2 separate regions of the Homo sapiens genome follow, and region 1 is linked to region 2. The links come from fine-mapping of genetic effects on gene expression. Tissue or cell type: esophagus muscle. Region 2 holds a variant in brackets; the other region holds the start of a gene. All regions are shown on one strand. Distances are from middle to middle.

Region 1 (8,183 bases), 38 kb after region 2:
AGCAAACCATAGGGTGTCAGTAGCAATTTGTTAAATAAATGAAGAAATATATATCTACATAGATATAAAGAAAAAAAATACATTGACCAAAATGTTGAATGTTCTCTCTAGGTAAATGAATTATAAATAAGTTCAGTTTTTTCCTCTTTATAGTTAAAAACATTTTTACAACTCTAATGTTCTACCTTTTTTTTCTTCCACAACAGTCATCTTAGAATAATGTTCTACTTTTGCACCAAGTTATTAAAAAAAAAATCAGTATCAGAAAACATAAAGCTGGCATTCTTCCCATTCAGAATCTCTAGGAGTAATGAGTCACTCTCCTTTCATCAGTAGTTTATACCCCTCTGCAGAGAATCAACTACTTTCCAAACTTAAGACAGCACTCACTCATTGTCTTCTACAGATAGATAGCAACTATATCCACTTAATCCTACTTGTACCATTACCCTAAGTAGCAGGAGTTGCTGGTATTCTTGAACTTGCCTGGTATGCAGCAGACAACATATTTCCATAACTCAACTAGAATTGGCCAATTTCCTGGTGTTATAAGAGAATCAAGTAAGTCCAAAGTTCAGTTTCCCAAAAACCATCTTATTTATCATGGGAAAACATGCAAGACAGTAGTATAAAGCAGACTGAAATGGGGGCTCAAATCAAAGGCTGTAAGATCCAAAAACAGGGAAAAATGAATTCTCACAGGGAGGATAAATAATGGGTTCATGACAGAAGTAGCATCTGAACTCAACTGTAAAGGATGGATAGGTACATCACAGGTAAGGAAAAATAGGAAAACATTTCTGCTGATAAGAATAGACAATAAAGCATGGAAGAGGGAAATATGCACTTTGAAGCATATTAAACATTTCTTTGCAACTAAAGTTTCATATCTATGTCTATATTGGTATTTATACCTATCTCTATTAGTTGGCTAAATTAGCACTTTTCCTTCAGGTATATAAGAGAGTGCTCATTTGCAAGATTGAGGCCAGATCTTGGTAAGCCTTTAATGCCAGGATAAAGAATTAGACTTCATTGAGTATGCCACAAATGCCATTCAGGGCTACTAGAGTTCCCCACAAGCCCAATGAATAAATAGCACCTGATTTTTCAAAAGCCAAATAAACAGCCAATAGCAGTGCAAAGTTAAATGAGTAGATAATCTCCATGTCATAAGTATATATGGAAGGCAGCTATTCCCTTTTTTCTTACCTCTCTAAAAATAAATGACAATTCAGAGAAAAGTAGTAATCTTCTATTCTAAACAAAATGAGCAGGCAGGGTCCCCCAAGTTTTAGGGCAAAGGAAGAAAGGAAGAAAAGAAGGGAGGGAGGGAGGAAGGAAGGAAGAAAAAAAGGAAGGAAGGAGGGGAGAAAGGAAAAAAGGAAGGAAGGGAGGGAGGGAGGGAAGGAGGAAAGAAAAAGAGGAAGAAGGAAGGAAGGAGAAGGGAGGGAGACAAGAAGGAAAGGAGGAAAGAAAAAGAGGAAGGAGGGAAAAAAGGAAGAGAGGGAGAGAGGGAAGAGAAAACAAGTCTCCTCTAAGCAGGGCCAGGCTTAAAATGATGTTTTTCAGTTAGTACCAAAAATATTCCCCAATCCAAAGAACGCTGGTTTGCTGCTTCCATTGTCTCAAAGGATGTATAGAATTCCACTATTTTCCATCACCAGCTGAAGTAGTTTCTAGTGTTTTCTTGGAGCCAGACTACATTCTAATTTCCTTCAGGGCAGTGGAAATCATGGAAAGATTAATCCTGTGTATATATAGCCTTGCACAGCGTAATACTGTGGATGAGGATTAATCGTACACAGTACCAGAATTCACTGAAGAGTATCTAACTTGGTTAGCATCTTCACCAAGCAGAAGTTAGCATTAGTTCCAAATCCATCTGAATCTCCATCAAAACCATCAGCAGCTGCCAAGGAAACTATGAACAAACTAAAGCAAGTCTTCACCTTTCCAAAATAAGAAACACTTCAGAGTCTGACAGTCTAATAGTTAGACTAACTTTAGTCAAGCTAAGCATCTCCAAACTCAAGAGACAGCTAGCAGGAATCTTTAAGATAACAGCCAGCAAAAACAATTTAGTATTCATTGTCCACATCATTCAAGCACCGCTGAGTCCTACCGTACACTTCCTCCAAGTCACCCTTCTGAAACCCTAGGAACAACACTTGTACTTAGCTGCAAGTTCTGTAGTTGCTCAGTTCCTACACAATTACAGCAGTAATTAATTTAGATTGGGATTATTTTCTTATAATTGAGAAGACTAATGGTCTCCAAACCAACAAGATGGCTTTGTACAGAAAAATCCACAGTAAGCTATAACAATTGAAGTTACAGTTTGAGTGGGTTGGCATATATATTTGCTCCTTTCTTTTGTTTAAGACAGAACCACTTAAGATAAGAGATTTATGTTTTGGAATTTCAGTACTATTTTTTTAAGAGGTGGTATCCTAGAGAGCTCAATCAATATTGTTATACATTGGAAACATTTATGGTGCCATAGGTGTTTACTATTCACAGATCTGGGGAAGATACCTGCCAGGGATATTTCACTACACTGAAACTCCCTGGAAATCTGTAGAGGTAGAGCTCTGCCTTTGGGCATTAGTCATTAAAAATATCTTGTCAGCTACTGTGACAAGTAAAGGCAGCTGAGAAGTACGGTCTAAAGAAGGGTAAATCTCGCCGTGTGCACAGTTACCCTTCGCATTTCTACAAGTGAAATGGGAGTAAAAATGAGCATTCAAAGCTGTCAAAGGAAAAGCAGTCCAGCAGTTCGAAGGGATATTCTGTGATGGACCAACTGTATGGTACAGTGTGTAAATGAACTTCAGGTCTATCTAGCGCCACGGGGGAGCCACGCTTTCGCACCACTGAGCTCTGGGGATGGGGAGAGTAGTGCAGGTTGGGGCCCCGTTTAGGAAACTACGAAGGGCTCTGAGAGAGCGAATTGTTCAGCAGTTTCCGTGACAGAACAATGATCTATTTAAGAAGTAATGGGGCAAGCAAAGAAAGCAGAGCTCGGTCATCCGGAAAAAGAAAGAGGAGCCGGAAAGAAAAGTATCAAGGAATCTACTGTGAGAGAGCGAGCAAAAAGCAAAAAGCGATCACAAATCCAGAGCAAGTAAGAGCTCAGGGATGCCGGGCCCGGGGGTCTAGCCTTTCTGAAGGGAGAGGGCTCCCCAGGCACGGGGGCAGCGCGAGGCAGCGCCCGCATTCCGTCTGCTGCCTTATCTTCGCATTCTCCCTACCACCCCCACCTTCCCCCCGGGACTGGAATAACCTTCTTCGTGCTCTCCGGTGGCTGAGAAAGCAGCTTTCGCTCTTCTGTGGTAGCGTGGAGGTGAGGTACATCTACCTCCACCCTCCCGGCACCAGCTCACGGTCTGTTGGGGGGGTCCTCCTAACGTGTGAGGCTAGGGTGTGTGAATGAAAAAGAGGGAGGCGGAGGCCTCCTGGAGACCTTCGACCTCTCAAGACCAGGCAGGGGCGCCCTTCCGCAAGCTCCCAGCTCTAGCCGGTGCCTCTGGCCCCGCGCGCATTAGGTCGCTGCCAGAAAATTACCCGGGCAACGACACCGCCGGAGTCCCGGATGTGGTTGCTAGGGCAGCAGAGGGAGGGGCGTAGCCCGCCTCCCGGAGAAGGGCGGAGGGATCCTCGTGGGAGGTGCGCTGACACCACCGAGACGTGGCCGGGCAAGGCCGGATTGAGGGAGAGAGAGGCCGTCCAGGGCCAGGGACAACGCTACTTCCGGTCTCCTCACTTCCGGCTTCGCTGCTCTTGGTTCTGGTTCTGGAGGCTGGGTTGAGAGGTCGCCGGTCCGACTGTCCTCGGCGGTTGGTCAGTGTGAATTTGTGACAGCTGCAGTTGCTCCCCGCCCCCGAGCAGCCGAGGTGCGTGGGGGAAGGGGAAGAAGGAAAAGGTCCGGGTCGCGTTTCCGCTCAGTTTTTGCCAGGGTTGAGGCGATTCCAGAGAGCGGCGGAAAGGATAAGCCTCGACTTAGAAGCTACCGAGTTACCCTAAGAAAGGTGAGGGCGGAGCTGGCTCGCCTGGGAAAAGGCGGGGGAAAGATGGTTTGAGGTGGCTGGTGGGGCGGGCACGTTGCCTACGGGTTCACCGTTCCGAACTTTCACAGGGCACGCCTCTCCTTAGTCTGTGCCGTATCTGCCCAAGTGTTATGCCTTTGGTTTCTTCTGTCCTTCATTCCTTCTGTCCCTCTGAGTGTGCCCCCGAAACAGTCGAGTGAAGGTGTAGGACCGGCCCTTGCAGGGAGGCACTCTCTTGGCTTTGCATACATTGGGTGGGAAAAGGAGTTGCAGGATCCAGAATCCGGACCTTTCTTGACAAAGTGTCGGAGTGGGCCACCTTCAGGCTTGCTGTCCAACCCTCATTTCTCCCCTCTTCTCCCTGCATCCCCAGCTTCCTCTCTCCCGCAGTGGGAGGAAGGGAGATAGTGACAGTCCCTCTGAGAGATTCATCTGGCAGTGGTGCAGAGAGGAGTCTTGCCTGTGAAATGTCCCAAGCCTGACTAAGGAATGCTGGAGTTTTGGAAAGGGAGTTGTTCGATTGTCTTCTGCTCCGTTCCTGTTTGCCAAGTTACTACTGTTTACGTGTCTAGGAAAAGGAAATAATTTTTTAAAAACAGTTTTTAGATGCTAGACGTTTTTCCCTTTTACTTTATTTTGTTATTACTTCCTTTGTTTTGTTCTTACCTTCCTCTTGAGCCCTTTGATTTCAAAAAGTTTACACTTTATACTTCCTGCAGATCCTTTGGCCACTCTTAGGATTTCTGTCCCCCGCCCCTACCCTGTTTTCTCCTAAAGTATAAAATTCATCTAACTACATTATTATTTGATAAGGAAAAGCCGGAAGAGATCCAGAACTTCGCATAAACTTTTGCTTTCATACTTTCACCTGTAAGGGTGTGTTCATGTTTGCCATTTAATTAACTTAATTGGCATAGAAATGTGCACCAGAAATGGTTACCTTAAGTCAGCCGTCTGTTAAGGCTTCAGGAATTGGCCTTTTCTTTTTTCTTTTTTTTTTTTTTTTTTTGAGACAGAGTCTCACTCTGTCGCCCAGGCTGGAGTGCATTGGCACGATCTCGGCTCACCGCAACGTCCACCTCCCAGGCTCAAGCTTTTCTCCTGTCTCAGCCTTCTGAGTAGCTGGGTTTACAGGTAGGCGCCACTACCGCCTAGCTAATTTTTGTATTTTTAGTAGAGACGGGGTTTCACCGTGTTGGCCAGGCTGGTCTCAAACTCCTGACCTCAAATGATCCTCCCTCCTCGGCCTCCCAAAGTGTTGGGATTACAGGCGTGAGCCACCGCGCCCGGCCGAATTGGCCATTTCATTGCTGTTCTCTCAGAGCGGCTACAGATTACTATATTTTACTGCTGCCTTAATTCTGCTTTTCTTTCGTTTGTCCTGTGGTGTTTTTTGTTTTGTTTTCCTTGCTTAGCATGACCCACGTCTTCTCCCAACTACCAAGTCTAACACACTTTTATCTGAGAAAAGAGAAAAGATTTCTAATGTATTTTGTGGATTAAATCCCTGCCTCAGTTACTTTAGTTTCTTTCCAAATTGATAAACTGGTTTTCCTTGGATTATGATTTGCCTTAATCCTGGATGATGACTTGGGGTTCATGGCCTAAGGGTCAACAACTTTCAGGGGTCTTCCTCATTCCCACCCCTGAAATTATATGCAGTTTTGTTTGAGTGAATTTTTTTCCCCCCTGGGGAAAGTGTCCATTGTTTTTATCAAATTCTCAAAGGAGATATACAGCCTCTTGATAGATTAAAACCACCACTTAGGCAGTGTCTTGTTGAAGTTAGTGAAAACAGGTTTTGTGTGTGTATGTGTGTGTGTGTTTTCCACTTAGGCAGTATCTTGTTGAAGTTAGTGAAAACAGGTGTGTATGTGTGTGTGCTTTCCCAAACTGTGCAAAGGAGATATATAGCTTCTTGATAGATTAAAACCACCACTTAGGCAGTGTCTTGTTGAAGTTAGTGAAAACAGGTAGGGGTGTGTGTGTGTGTGTGTGTGTGTGTGTGTGTGTGTTTTCCCAAACTGTAAATTGTTTGCTTTGGGACCAAGGAAAGGAGAATGCAGGGATTCTTCTAGTTTGATATTGAAATCTCTCCTTTAAAACATTAGTGTTTCTAAATTCCTTCCTAGACTTACAGAAGGAAATGAGGCTGCCCACTTTATTTCCTGATTTGTGGTTTTGAGGTTTCTTCTTAGGGATAGCTGTTTGTGGTCCATGCTCTGGAGATCCAGTGGATTTACAAACTGATGTGCCTATCTTTAATATGTATTAAATATCACCAACCAACTAGGCACAGTTCAGAGTAAAAAATTTAAATTCTAGTTGTATTTTGCTTTCATTTTCTTAATTTTTTTTGCTTGAGGCATGTACCTTAGGATTTGATTTGGCTTTGCTATGAAAAACAAACAAGATGTTTCAGTGGTGTGGTCCTTTGGAATGTTGTTGCTTATCTTGACATCCCCTTTCCCTCCATTCTGTATGAGATATTTTAATGATTGTTTCTCTCTTGTGAATACGTTAGTATCCTTCCAAGCTTAATGTAAGTTTTAGAGTACATATTTGAACTTACTGATTTGGTTGTGAATTATTTGTTGATTGAGGGTTGCAGTTCTAAAGGTCTGATACTTTTTTTTTTAGAATGTTAACTTGAAGAGACCTATACAGCTCATCATAGTCTATCATGAGTATCCAGTTTCTTCTGCTCACAGAATAAGTTTTCCTCTGTCTAGCAACCTCACTTGGGGGAGCAGTCAACATAAGTTTATAGAGAATAGCGTATGCTAGGCTGGGCACGGTGCCTCACACCTGTAATCCCAACACTTTGGGAGGCTGTGGCGGGTGGATCACTTGATGTCAGGAGTTCAAAACCTGGCCAACATGGTGAAACCCCATCTCTCCTAAAAATAAAAAAATTAGCCGGGTGTGTGTTGCATGCCTGTAGTCCCAGCTACTTGGGAGGGGCTGAGGCAGGAGAATCGCTTGAACCCAGGAGGCGGAGGCTGCAGTAAGCCAAGATCCCACCACTTCACTCCAGCCTGGCCAACAGAGTGAGACTCCATCTCAAAAACAACATCAACAACAGACTAGCTTATGCTAAATTAGTTTCCTTTTAAGGTAATGACAAATTCGGAAGATATTTTATATCTAACACTGTAACAGTTACATTTATTTGCTTACCATGTGCATTAAGCTAAGTGCTTTACATTATTATCTCAAATGATAACCTTATAAAGTGGCTAAAGTCCTCATTTCTGTAGGTGAAGAAAATAAAGCTGAATGATTAACTGAAGCTAAAGTAGTCTGCTCAGAATTGCGCTGGTGGAGCCAGTGCATGGCTCCACCTACGTTGTCTGACTCTAGACTACTACTGTAGACAACTTCTACCATGCGTCCATTATGTCCTTTTTGAAATGAGTTGGAGATATATCACCTGACTTTCTATCAGGTGTTGAGAAAAGGTTGTTTCCTTTCTTAATCTTCAGTGGATGAACATCTGGTTGAATATCATACTGAGAAGTTTGACAAAAAAGTGAATTTGGTGGAGGCAGTTGGTAGGGGTTTCCTATGGGGATGGATATAAGTCTCTGGTGTGTGTGTGTGTGTGTGTTAGAACACACACACCTACTTGAAATAAAGAATTGTAAGTATTATAAATTCTTGAAATGAAGATTCAAATAATAAGCAGATGGTGTGTGTGTATATGAGGAGGGGAAAATGTGAAAATGAAGATTATAAGTAATAAACTGGGCATTGTAAGAGTCTGGAAGTATAAATAAATTTTAGAATAATACATTTGGGATGGAAAGAATAAATTCAGAATGGAAGAAGGAGTAAATTAAACAGGAAACTTTAATATGGTTATGGATGAAAAACTAAAATATTTGTACAGAATGGAAAGTGAGTTGTTCCACTTAATATGGAAGTTGATGACTTAGGATCATGACAATCTAAAAGTCAGATATGTAGCACTACTTCTGGATGTATGAAAAAGACTATTGGCCTGAAAATAATTTTGTTTTCCTTGATCTTTAGTAGCTTTTGGCAGTCATGGAAGCTGCCGAATGGCTCTTGCAGATTAACAGATATTCTTTATGAGACAAAAGTATTTATTTTCTTTTTCTTTTTCCTTTA
Region 2 (8,183 bases):
CTCAGCCCTTTGGCAGGCTCCCTTTGGAAATTGGCATGGGGGACAGAGAGGAGGAGATGCTCTGCAGTAGGTCAGGTGCTTGGGAACAGAGGGTAGCCCAGGACAGGAGCCTTTAAGAGGTATCTGCTGCACAGTCGGTTTTACCCTTCCCCTCTGCATTATTACCCAAAAGGCAAAAATAGGGTTCAGGAACAGCAGAGAAAGTATCTTTCCCTTCATTCACACATTAGCAGGAGAAACTCTAGGTGTTAGAGCAAAGTAACAACCCTGCCTATGGTGCAGTGGTACCCTGGGGGGACTTAGGAGAAAGAAGACCAGTATTTGGGGAGAGCCAGAGGGCTGGAAATGAAGACTAAGGAGTTTCTCTCTTTCCTGTTTGGTGTATACATGATGATACACATACAAGAACCCCTGATACAGTGTCAGGCCCTTACCTGGTGCACAATAAATGTTTCTGAACTTTCTGGACTGATTAGATTATGATGTGAGCTGTTTAGAAAAAGGCCGTGGGAGTCTGCTTTCAGCCTTGAATTTAGTAGAGGATTATTACTAAGGCACCAGAGCAGATATGCAGGGGCCAGGGAGGAGCTGCCAAATAAGAGGACATTGTCTTGGTAAAAAAGAGAGTCTCTGAAATGGGCCAGCAGTTATAAATATCAATGGCAAATGCCTGAGCACTGATGTAAGAAGATGAATGCAAGAAACCTGACCGTCTTGGAAAAGACCTGAGCATGATGGATTCTTCCAAATCTAAATCCACTAAATTAGTTCTGAGACTACTCAGTGTTACATGGAAAGACGACAGCAGACAAGGCACCCCTCCATCTGCAAAACACTCCTGCTAGTGCTTCTAGGGGCACAGGAAGGGGACAAACAGAAACAAAAACAGTTGAGAGTCAAGATCATGAAATACGACCAACACAAAGGAGTTTGTGAAGTGAGAAGTGTTACTTATTCAACAGAGAGATTCCACAAAGAATCTCTTGTATAGTTTTATGACCTCATTCTTGCAAAGGATATAGCAGAAAAAAGAATTGAGTCATAAAAAGCGAAAGATATTTCTCAATTTCCTAATCATAACTTCGTGACTTAAAACAACAAAAGCTTATTCTCATAGAGTTCTGGAGGCCAAAGTCCAAAATCAAGGTGTTGGCAAGGCCATGCTCCCCAAGAAGGTTCTGGGGCAGAACCCTTTCTTGTCTCTTCCAGCTTCTGGTGGCTCCTGGCATTCCTTGGTTTGGGGCAGCCTAACTCCAGTATCTGCCTTGGCCCTCACATGGTCTTCTCTGTGTGATTTTGTGCCCTCTATATTGTAAGGACACTAGTCATTAGATTTAGGGCCCACTCTTAATCTATGATGATTTCATCTGAGCTCCTCAACCAATTACAATTAATTACATATGCTAAGAAAATTACATCCCTATTTCCACATAAGGTCACATTCTGAGCTTTTGGGTGGCCATAAATTTGGGTGGGGGACATTATTCAACCCACTATAATGTGTGACACATGCAGAAAATAGACAAAAAAGAGAGATTATGCATTTATAACATAGGAAATAGATTTACTCTTTGTGATTACCTTGTTATTCTTTACTACAGCCAACTATCTAATGATTGGTGACAATCAGAAGCAAACTTGACCTTTATCTACATGCTGTAGGAAAATGGTTCCCAAATGCTAAACAATGAAACAGCACTGGTCCGAGGGAAAGCTTTCATAGGCCAAGGCATCTTTTCCACAATCCCTGTGGGCTCTCGATTGAAGTCCCAGGGCCTCAGTTGCTCAGCCTTAGCTAAGAGGAGCTACTGAGTAAGAGCTTGCTCTAGGCACCTGGGCTCTACCATCTGCCCCCGCCAAGTTCTTCATGGCCCGGTAAGGAATAAGGACAGCATCAGAGCGATCAGGAAACTTGCTTTCATTTACATAGAATATTCCAAATGAAGGGAAATGCCATTAAGAGTGTTACTTCCATCTTTGCTAACAAACCTTTGAGAAACTGAGTTTCATAATGAATGATAAAGATATGAGAACAAATTGAACATTGATGCTCTACTTTGTGGTGTCCTATTGAATATATAACCACAAGCTGATAAATGTGTATCAAACTAACAATTATGTACAATGCAATAGGATTTCATATAGTAACTCTTCTAAACTCAAAAATTATGTATATATTTATAAAAATATATTTCATCTGTGTCTCTCTGTTGTCAGATTACCAACTATCCTTTATGCTATGTCCTTTTTACTTTTTACATGTAAAGTATGATTTCTTTTATGAAATAGTAAATATAGATTCTTACCTTACAAAATACAAAGGGCAACTTTTGTTGGTTCCATGCTTTTTAAACATTTTCACTGAATATATTTTATATTTCAGTGATTTCTTTTTTATTGCTTTGGAGTACAGAATTATTACAGAAATAAATTTCAGAGTATAAAGGTATTTCTCCATAAGAAAACCTGCCATTTAAAAGTCAAGCTTATAGGACATATTGGTTAAAATATAATTGTATTGTTTTGATTTAAAGTAACAGGATTTGCACTTAAGAGAAGGTATACCCTAGATTTCCTTTGCACAATAAATTCCTAAAGTGCATGTATAATATGATTCCATTTTATATTTAAATCCAAAATTTCAAGAGCACAGTCTTTTCAAATTAAGTTACACCTCCTTCTATTTTTCCTGCAGACAGCTGTCAATAGGCAAGATATTCCCACTGTAGCACTCACCTCTCCTATCCATCTGTCTTTCCACCAGGCATTTAGAGATCAGGCAAATAGAAAGACTGTGTCTGGGGTAAAAAAATGACTGCAGAGGGAAAGCTGAACCTGGCTGGACATAGTTGCTCTGCCCAGAACATTGTTTTTTCTCTTTTATGGGCCTTTACTCTGATTGACTACCATTTAACAAAAATGGTAGTGAGAGCAGCGTCACCGGATAATTACAATCTCCTTAAGTGTCAAAAGACCTTGGTCTTCCTTCATATGGAAACTCTCTACCCTCTCATTTAAAGCAATCGAGGCTGGGTGCAGTGGCTAACGCCTGTAATCCCGGCACTTTGGAAGGCTGAGGTGGGCCGATCACTTGAGTCCACAGTTTGAGACCAGCTTGGGCAACATGGCAAAATCCTGTCTCTACACAAAATACAAAAATTAGCCTGGCTTGGTGGCACGCATCTGTGGTCCCAGGCACTTGGGAGGCTGAGGCAGGGGGATGGCTTGAGCCTGGGAGGTCGAGGCCTCAGTGAGCCGTGATTGTGTCACCGCACTCTAGCCTGAGTCAAACAGTGAGACCCTGTCTAAAAAAAAAAAAAAAAAAAAAAAAAAAGCAATTGAATAACTTTCATGCGCGTCCGTGTGAAGAGACCACCAAACAGGCTTTGTGTGAGCAACATGGCTGTTTATTTCACCTGGGTGCAGGTGGGCTGAGTCCGAAAAGAGAGTCAGCGAAGGGAGATAGGGGTGGGGCCATTTTATAGGATTTGGGAAGGTAATGGAAAATTACAGTCAAAGGGGGTTGTTCTCTGGTGGGCAGGGGTGGATCTCACAAAGTACATTCTCAAGAGTGGGGAGAATTACAAAGAACCTTCTTAAGGGTGGGGGAGATTACAAAGTACATTGATCAGTTAGGGTGGGGCAGGAACAAATCACAATGGTGGAATGTCATCAGTTAAGGCTGTTTTTACTTCTTTTGTGGATCTTCAGTTACTTCAGGCCATCTGGATGTATACGTGCAAGTCACAGGGGATGCGATGGCCTGGCCTGGGCTCAGAGGCCTGACATTCCTGCCTTCTTATATTAATAAGACAAATAAAACAAAATAGTGTTGAAGTGTTGGAGTGGCAAAAATTTTGGGGGGGTGGTATGGAGAGAGAATGGGCGATGTTTCTCAGGGCTGCTTCAAGCGGGATTAGAGGCGGCGTGGGAACCTAGAGTGGGAGAGATTAAGCTGAAGGGAGGTCTTGTGGTGAGGGGTGATATTGTGGGGATGTTAGAAGAAACATTTGTCATATAGAATGATTGGTGATGGCCTGGATACGGTTTTGGATGAATTGAGGAACTAAATGGAATAAGAGAAGGAGAAAAACAGGTATAAAAGGTCTAAGAATTGGGAGGACCTAGGACATCTGATTAGAGAGTGCCTAAGGAGATTCAGCATAGTCCTGCCAGCAAAGATTATTTATTTACTTCAAGAGTTTAGAGTGGCAGTTTGGGGATAGCACCAGGAGATATCAGCTGTGATGGCTTGGAGAAACAGCGTAAACCGGCAGTGTAAACAAGAGCAGGGCGTATATGAGTAGTTGAGAACGGTGAATAGGAGTATGACTAGATAAAAGATAGTAGGGATGACAAGTTTTTTGGGGGCACAGTCTAAGTTGGTCTGGTGTCAAATGAGACTGGGGCCTAATAAAAAGGAGCATGTATACAGGAGCTTAAATGGGCTGTACCTTGTAGAAGCGAAAGTGGTAAAAGTATTGTCCAGTCCTTTTTAAGTTGGTGGCTGAGCTTGGTGAGCTGTGTTTTTAAAAGACCTTTAGTCCGTTCTATTTTTCTTGAAGATGGAGGACCGTAAAGGATATAAAGGTTTCGCTGAAACCTACTAAGAGCCTGAAAAACTGCTTGGCTGATTTGACTAATAAAGGCTGGTCTGTTATCAGACTGTATAGAGGTGGGAAGGCTAAACTGAGGAATTATGTCTGACAGAAGGAAAGAAATGACTGCGGTGGCCTTCTCAGACCCTGTAGGAAAGGCCTTTACTTATTCAGTGAAAGTGTCTATTTGGACTAAGAGGTATTTTAGTTTCCTGACTCGGGCATGTTGAGTAAAGCTAATTTGCCAGTCCTGGGTGGGGGCAAATCCTCAAGCTTGATGTGTAGGGAAGGGAGGGGGCCTGAATAATCCCTGAGGAGTAGTAGAATAGCAGATGGAACACTGAGAAGTTATTTCCTTGAGGATAGATTTCCACGATGGAAAGGAAATGAGAGGTTCTGAGAGGCAGGCTAGTGGCTTGTACTATAGCATA[G/A]CCTGCCTTTGCTGGTGTGTGGCGATTAGGCCTGGTGGAACTGCCATCAATAAATCAAGCGTGATCAGGGTGAGGAACAGGAAAGAAGGAAATTTGGGGAAATGGGGTGAATGTCAGGTGGATCAGAGAGATACAGTCATGGGGGTCAGGTGTGGTATGAGGAATAATGTGGGAGGCCAGATTGAAGTCCGGGCCAGGAACAATGGTAATTGTGGGACTGAAAGAGTGAGTACAGCTGAAGGAGCCGGGGAGCAGAAAGTATATGCGTCAGGTATGAGGAAGAAAATAGATTTTGGAAGTTACGAGAAATGTAGAGAGTGAGTTGAGCATAGTTTGTGATTTTTAGGGCCTCTAAAAGTATTAAGGCAGTGGCAGCCGCTGCACGCAGACATGAGGGCTAGGCTAAAACAGTAAGGTCAAGTTGTTTGGACAGAAAGGCTACAGGGTGTGGTCCTGGCTCTCGTGTAAGAATTCTGACCACGCTAACCATGCCTAGGAAGGAAAGGAGTTGTTGTTTTGTAGAAGGTGCTGGGGTTTGAGAGATCAGTTGGACACGATTGGCAGGGAGAGCACGTGTGTTTTTATGAGATTATGCCGAGATAGGTAACAGATGAGGAAGAAATTTGGGCTTGATTGAAGTAATGGGGGCTGTCTGTGAAGCTTTGTGGCAGTACAGCCTAGGTAATTTGCTGAGCTTGATGGGTGTCAGGGTCAGTCCAAGTGAAGGTGAAGAGAGGCTGGGATTAAGGGTGCAAAGGAATAGTAAAGAAAGCATGTTTGAGATCTAGAACAGAATAATGGGTTATAGAGGCAGGTATTGAGGATAGGAGAGTATATGGGTTTGGCACCACGGGGTGGATAGGCAAAACAATTTGGTTGATAAGGTGCAGATCCTGAACTAACTTGTAAGGCTTGTCTGGTTTTAGGACAGGTGAAATGGGGGAATTGTAAGGAGAGTTTATAGGCTTTAAAAGGCCATGCTGTAGCAGGCAAGTGATAACAGACTTTAATCTTTTTAAAGCGTACTGCGGGATGGGATATTGGCATTGAGTGGGGTAAGGGTGATTAGGTTTTAATGAGATGGTAAGGGATGCATGATCGGTCGCCAAGGAGGGAGTAGAGGTATCTTATACTTGTGGGTTAAGGTGGGGGGATACAAGAGGAGGACGCAAAGGAGGCTTTGGATTGGGAAGAAGGGCAGCAATGAAATATAGCTGTAGTCCGGGATAGTCAGGGAAGCAGATAATTTAGTTAAAGTGTCTCAGCCTAATAAGGGAACTGGGCAGGTGGGGATAACTAAAAAGGAGTGCTTAAAAGAGTATTGTCTAAGTTGGCACCAGAGTTGAGGAGTTTTCAGGGGTTTTGAAGCTTGGCCATCAATACCCACAAAAGTTATGGGGGCAAGGGAAACAGGCCCTTGAAAAGAAGGCAATGTGGAGTGGGTAGCCCTCGTATCGATCAAACAGGGGATGGACTTACCCTCCACTGTGAGAGTTACCTGAAGCTCGGTGTCCGTGATGGTCCAGGGGGCTTCCGAGGCGATCGGGCAGCGTCAATCTTCAGTCGCTAAGCCAAGCAGATCTGGGAAGGAGTCAGTCAGAGAGCCTTGGGCTAGAGCTTTAGGGGCTCTAGGAGTGGCTGCTGGGCAAGCTGGGCAGTCTGATTTCCAGTGGGTCCCTGCACAGATGGGACATGGCTTGGGAGGGATCCTGGGCTGCAGGCATTCCTTGGCCCAGTGGCCAGATTTCTGGCACTTGAAGCAGGATCCTGATGGAGGAAGTCTTGTAGGAATGCTTGACTGCTGCAGCTTAGGCATTTTGAAGTTCTTGTATGCAGGAGGTGTGGCTGGGTTTTGTCTCACAGCAGAGGCAAGTAATTGTAACTCAGAAATGCGTTGCCGTCTGGCTGCTTTCTATTATTGTACACCTTGAAGGCGAGGTTGATTAATTCCTGTTGTGGGGTTTGAGGGCCAGAATTTAATTTTTGGAGTTTTAATGTCGGGAGCAGATTGGGTAATAAAATGTATTTTGAGAATAAGACGGCCTTTTGACCTTTTAGGGTCTAGGGCTGTAAAGTGTCTCAGGGTTGCTGCCAAACGAGCCATGAACTGGGCTGGGTTTTTATATTTGATGAAAAAGAGCCTAAACGCTATCTGATTTGGGATAAAGAAAAAGGAGCATTAACCTTGACTATGCCTTTAGCTCCAGCCACCTTTTTAAGAATAAATTGCTGGGCAGGTGGGGGAGGGCTAAGTCACGGAAGGAAACTGTAAGCCGGAGCAGGTGTGAGGAGGGGAGGCGATAAAAAGATTATAGGGTGGAGGAGTGGAGGCTGAGGAAGAATTGGGACCTAGCTCGGCCTGGCGAGGAGGGGAGAGGTCAGATGGGTCTGTAGAAAAGGAAGATTAGAAAGACTCAGCGACGCTTGGGGTTGGTACTGAGGGGACAGGCGGGAGGGAAAGAAGGAAGATTTGGGATGAGTTGCACTGGGCACAGAGACTAGGAAGGGACTGATGTGTAAAAGAATGCCTGGACGTCAGGCACCTCAGACCATCTGCCCATTTTACGACAAGAATTATTTAGATCTTGTAGGATGGAAAAATTGAAAGTGCCGTTTTCTGGCTATTTGGAACTACTGTTGAGTTTGTATTGGGGTCAAGCGGCATTGCAGAAGAAAAACGCTTAGATTTTAGGTCAGGTGAGAATTGAAGAGGTTTTAAGTTCTTAAGAATACAGGCTAAGGGAGAAGAAAGAGGAATGGAAGGTGGAAGCTTGCCCATAGTGAAGGAGGCAAGCCCAGAGAAAAGAGTAGAGACACGGAGAAGGGGTGGGGGTTTCTTCCCCTCCAGAAAAGCAGAGAAAGGGTTGGGGCACGGAAATAAGGGATTGGGGCACAGAGATAAGAGATTGGGGCGTGGAAATAAGCGATTGGGGGGTTCTTGCCCCCTAGGAAAAGCGGGACTTGCTGCTAAGGGTGAAGGAGAAGGGGTTGAGGGGTACTTGCCCCTGCCCCAGGAAAGCGGGACTTGCCACTGAGGGTGAAGGAGAAGGGGTTGAGGGGTACTTGCTCCTGCCCCAGGAAAGCGGGACTTGCCACTGAGGGTGAAGGAGAAGGGGTTGAGGATTACTTGCCCCTGCCCCAGGAAAGCAGAGAA

Evidence for each region. PIP is the estimated chance that this variant, and not a neighbour inherited with it, causes the effect.
Region 1: ARFIP1 starts here. The variant in region 2 is fine-mapped to the expression of ARFIP1 in esophagus muscle (GTEx, PIP above 0.99).

The regions. Positions count from the first base shown.
Region 1 is chr4:152,776,196-152,784,378 of GRCh38, forward strand. It overlaps ARFIP1 (ARF interacting protein 1), which reads left to right and starts at 3,759. Exons shown (of 9, transcript NM_001025595.3): 1 at 3,759-4,031. TIGD4 (tigger transposable element derived 4) reads right to left here and starts at 3,535. Exons shown (of 2, transcript NM_145720.4): 1 at 3,287-3,535. RefSeq lists enhancers at 2,977-3,186, 3,637-3,796, 3,987-4,036.
Region 2 is chr4:152,738,008-152,746,190 of GRCh38, forward strand. No RefSeq gene overlaps it. Among named protein-coding and RNA genes, the nearest start is that of TIGD4, 38 kb to the right of the region's middle. RefSeq lists an enhancer at 2,711-3,211. The variant G/A (reference allele first, on the strand shown) is at 5,030.